2 separate regions of the Homo sapiens genome follow, and region 2 is linked to region 1. Evidence: fine-mapped expression QTL. Tissue or cell type: whole blood. Region 1 holds a variant in brackets; the other region holds the start of a gene. All regions are shown on one strand. Distances are from middle to middle.

Region 1 (2,694 bases):
TTGTCCAGAGAGTTTTTATTTCAAAAATAAGTTTTCTTTTTGTATCTTCAATAAGCTATGGCTATGTTATCCTCAGACAGGGAATCTCCTAGTAGGATCCTACAGTTCCACGCTTGGTCTTCAGAGAACCTTCAGAGAAGTAGCAACTGGGTGCCCAGTTAGCATTCTAAAGTCTAAGGCATGAGAAGAGATCACAATACACTTCTACACTTCCATGAGACTTTCTTTTGTTTTGCTCATTCACTTCTCACCAATCCATGCACTCCTTCCCACCACTTTTCATGACCTCCCATCATCACAAAAGTACATAGAACAAAATGAAAAAAAGTCTGTTTCTTGGTGTTAGTCAGTATGTTGCTGCACATACTGGTGTGTGTGTGTGTGTGTGTGTGTGTGTGGTCTGTCTGTGTGTGTATGTGAAGAAGAGAAAAAGGTGGGGGTGGCGGTGGGGAGAGAGAGAGTGGGTTGGCTCCTTAAAACAAAATTGTTAAATGCCGGGGTTTTTTTCCCACCCACCTTGCCAGAAAACAGGAGAGACAGAAAAGTATCCATCTAGTCCCTAAAGAAATGTCCCATCTGTCAAAGTCAGAACTGCAGGGTTACATGAAGAATCAATGAACAGACAAAGTACATTTTAAAGAAGGATTCCTAAGGGAGACATGCATCAGGAATTCTCAAAGGGAATGAGGAGAGAGAGGAATTGGTAAGCTAAGGCCCCTATATTGTTGGTCTAGAAGGGCTGTAGCGCAACAGAAAAAGCATTCTATTTCTAAATTGACTTTGTAAACTTGTTTTGCCACTAACTCAAAATGAACATTGGGCTTAACCATTTCTCCTTTCTTTACTTCAACTTCCCCTTCTCTATATAAATGTTGTATAAAGCCCCTCACCACCCTGGTAGTCTGTGGATCTCTAAAGCCATTGAAAAATGTTTCTAGGGTGGATATGGAGTTGGGTGGTCTATATCAATGTCCCTGGAGTTTTCTTTCCATATTCTAATAGTCCTTATCTGGGAAAGATCAAAGCCTTTACCTAGTTCTCTTTTTTAGATACTCTAATCTTTTCTGTACCACCCCTGCCCATTACCTGATGGTTTTGATGACATTAGAATTTACAACATCCTCCTCTGCATCTTTTCTACCCCAAGACACTCCCCTACTTATATTTCATGTTCCTGGAAATGCTGACCTCCCAGGGGCTCCTTGCTATATGTTCTCTGGAGTTGCTAAGTGTGTAAAGTTTTTTGTAAGTGCTCCTCTGGGGTAGGAAGTTGGACACAGAGAAGTAAAGCAGCCCTACTCTCTTTCAAATGGCTTTTCTGCAACCCTCACTGGCTCTAGAATCCAATCCCAGGGACACTGCCTCTTCTGGGACTCTAGAAGTTCTGCAAGTC[C/A]CTCATAGCACTTTTTTTTTTTTTTTTTTTTTTTTTTGAAACGGAGTCTTGCTCTGTCACCCAGGCTGGAGTGCAGTGGAGCGATCTCGGCTCACTGCAACCTCTGCCTTCCAGGTTCAAGCGATTCTCCTGCCTCAGCCTCCCAAGTAGCTGGGACAACAGGCATGTGCCACCACACCCAGCTAATTTTTTGTATTTTTTAGTAGAGACAGGGTTTCACCATTTTAGCCAAGATGGTCTCGCTCTCCTGACCTCGTGATCCACCCGCCTTGGCCTCCCCGTCATAGCTTTTCATGAGAAGAGACAATCCAACTTGAATACATGAAGAATCACATCTTTAGCACCCCAGAGGTGAGTTTCATCTTAAAAGCTTTTTTTGCAAGGAGATTTCTCATCCATCCCTACTAACCTCACCACATCACCATATTATCACAGCACAGGCACCACTATCACTTTTGCGCTTACCATCTCTACCTTTGTTACTCTCACCACTGTCCCTCCCTTTGCCATGTCAGCTATCTTTAGCCATTGTTCCAAATGATTGATGTTGAATACCTAATACACTTGTCTAAGTCTCCATCACCAGTATTATTACCATTACTTACATTATCACTACCATTATTATTACCCAGGCATCTTCATGAGACTAATCTACTTTTTCATTATTACTTTTACTTATATCCATATCCTCAATATGTTCATCAACATCCTAATCTTGACATCTGAACTCTTATCTCAGCTGTGTGTTCTCTGTGGGCATGTACTTAGATGGATATGGAGTCCAGATGAATAATGGAATTACAGCATTTATCTATCAGAAGTAAGGTATTTGAATCATTCATAGCCCCAAATGTACTTTTATTTTTCAGAATCAGGTGGAAAGAAAGCAGTTGCTATATTAAATTTAAGATACGGAGGTAACCATAAAAAGATTAACAAGTAAATCATATTAAACGGAAGAAAAATACTAAGTGTTCTGAGTTCAAATTGGAAAAGCTTTCCTGTAGGAGACGGAAAGTTTCTGAGCCAAAGGAAAGGAAGATATTTGTTTCTGAGAGTACTAATGTGACTTTGGGATTGAAAGAGTCTCTCAAATTTTTGGACAATATGAGGGTCTCATTCAACCTTAATCAGCATTTAGCTTATGTCCCACTTACTCTGAAATACCTAACCTTTCACAAAGATGGATAGTTGAAACTATCCTTCACTAAATTACTGCATCTCCCACAGTCTCAAGCACCAACAGATCTTTTGTTTTCATTTTTATTTCATGGATATATAGATTAGCCATCTATCCCAAT
Region 2 (2,694 bases), 29 kb after region 1:
GAAGTGGGGCACCTGATAAGGTTTCCTTGTGTTCCTCTTTACCCTTTACCTTAAGACCTGCTCGAAGCATCAGCATAAGAGAGAAACTGAAACAATGAACACCCACATGTGTTAGTGGCTGTCATTCTAGATCCTCTTGGTTTTTTCTGATTTACCCTGCTTTAGTGGGGTTTAGACAGTTTCCAAATCCAAACTTTAACTCTCTCTATGCTGCTGGTTTGGATTAAGACAATCAGCTTTATTCTTCTCTGTAGATGGCCTTGGATCATTTTCCCCTATTAGCTGTTTTGGGATCCTTTTCCAGTCATGACCACATTTTGCTTACAGATCAGCTAGTTGGTAACCACAGCACTGTCTGCTAACTGATACCATTCATTTGACAATTCAGAGTTATGATACTTTGTAGTGCACCCACTGTTCTTCACAGGAAAAAAAAATTGCAGTACAAAGGGTTTATCAGGCCCCCTATCATTCCAGAGTTTCAGTGCTGTTCCAGAATGTTCAAGGTTTCAGTCATGATATGAACCAACTATCCATAAATAATGCAAAAAGCATGAGTAATCATGAATTTAATAATCAAGGTAAGGCAGCTCAGTTATTATACTCAAGAGAGCAACTAGTATGAAACTCTTTCAAATTATTTGAATAAGGATTTACATATTCATAATGACTTTCTGCCTCTGTCAAGCTCCAGGTGTATCAGTTATTAATAACTGGGTGAATATGTAGGTACTATTTAAACAAAAACAATTTCACAGTAGACCCACCCCTATCCAAGAGATGAAGTCAAGTTCTGGTAGCAATAGACATCTCTACCAAGATCTCCTGCTCCTGCCACTCTGTGAACAGGAAAGGAGGGAGAAACTTTGGTGTTTTGCCTTTCCCAATTTATATTAAGATCCTTATTCAAGCGGCTACCGGTTTCTAATGACCTATATGTAAGTTAGCTTTATAAGAAAGTTCTGAGTTTGAAACTCCTTTCAGCAAGTATTTGTAAGTCAAAAAAGCGAAGAAGAGGCACCATTTACTGTCATTTCTCCTTGTGACTGAGATTACTTACTACAAAGAGGAACTGACCACTTTCTCTGACATCTGAAATAGAAAGCTACAAAGGCTGATAGGCGTGGCTTCAAAATTGTTTCATGATTACATAACTTCTTTCTAGTTAGGAATTAGGACAGTGTAAGAAGGCCATCTACAATCAAGATTGAGAGTGGCTCTAACAAGTGCCATTTTTCCTTGTTAGCTTTCATTTCTCAGCCCTTTACAAGATTAAAATAGTCTGCAGTTTAATCTCTCCAAAGCTTTACGGACAGTGATTCTGTCCTAAACAAGACAGTGACTCCAGGATTTCTGAAGACTATTGTGGAAGAAGCATCCATTAAGGTGAGATTTCTGGGAAGTTCTTTAGAGAAAGATCTAGGTATCTAGTTGGTAACCACACCATCTCAGTAGAGAATAATTGCCTGAGACCAGAAGTGTTGTTATCAATCATATTCAGAAAACTGAGAACTGAATGCTTTAACTGTCTAGGTAGCAAATGGATATCTTTTATTCTACCACAATTGGGGTATGAACCAAAAAAATGTATTTTGTCTACAGCAGGTTTTAAAAATTAATTCTTGGGTGTCTTTTGGCATAAATTGATATTTAGAGGAGATACTTGGTTTTCTTGGCTGGAGGATGACTTGGTGACTGGGTTTGGGCCTAAGTTAAAAGACAAGACAGTCAGATAAGAAAATTATTATGAAGTAATATTTAGTAAAAAATAAACCAGGATATAAATCTCTATTATATGATTTTATCTCTATTTTAAAAAGCATAGACATGTGCACACATTAATTTCTCAATTTTACAAGCATTTACTCAAAAATAATCTTTACATTTTCATGAATCAGTTTCATTTTATGCTTCATTTTACAACAAGTGTAAGAAGAAATAATTCTCTTTTTCAAATGGTCTATGCTTTACTCAGTCATAGATAACATTTTTTGTGGCAAGGTATAATGAAAAGACAGGGAGAATCAATTATATATTTCCTACTTTGGGATACATTTTGACTTTTTTATGGCTTTGTACATATGAATGTTTTCTAATTACTCCATGAGTACTTGAGAAGAGTTTATAAACGTTGGATTCCAAATTCTATTTAAGTAAGATAAAGTTTCTTAAGTAAGCTTGTTAATTATGTTTGAAAAATCTAAATCTAAATCTAAGCTATTTTTTACCTTGTTCTTTCAGTAACTGAGAGATGTGGTGAAATCTCCAACTCTAATAGTGATTTTGTTAATTTCTCATTGTAGTTCTTTTGATTTCTACCATATATTTTTACATAGAATATGTATATCTAAGTATATATGTTATGTGTGTGTTTAGAGAGAAGAAAAAACTTCTATATGCTACTTTATAAAGTAATAACAGATTATATTTATAATATAATTTAAATTATTATATCTTTTTCCAAGTTGCATACTTTACCATTATGTAGTGAAACTATGTACTGATACTTATTGACTTAAGCCTATTTTAAGCTACACTATTTTTCCTAAAAAGTCTTTCTTTAAGTTAGAGTTTGAAGAATATAACTTTTCCAGCTCTTTCTCAAACTTAAGTGAACTTATGCTTTATTTGTACTTTGTCAACAACATATGACTGGATTTATTTTTAATCCAAATTGAAAATTTTTCCTCCTAG

Evidence for each region. PIP is the estimated chance that this variant, and not a neighbour inherited with it, causes the effect.
Region 2: MNDA starts here. The variant in region 1 is fine-mapped to the expression of MNDA in whole blood (TOPMed, PIP above 0.99).

What each region holds. Positions count from the first base shown.
Region 1 is chr1:158,800,796-158,803,489 of GRCh38, forward strand. It overlaps a transcript of OR6N1 not described here. Among named protein-coding and RNA genes, the nearest start is that of OR6N2, 21 kb to the left of the region's middle. The variant C/A (reference allele first, on the strand shown) is at 1,394.
Region 2 is chr1:158,830,172-158,832,865 of GRCh38, forward strand. MNDA (myeloid cell nuclear differentiation antigen) reads left to right here and starts at 1,180. Exons shown (of 7, transcript NM_002432.3): 1 at 1,180-1,386. It also overlaps a transcript of OR6N1 not described here.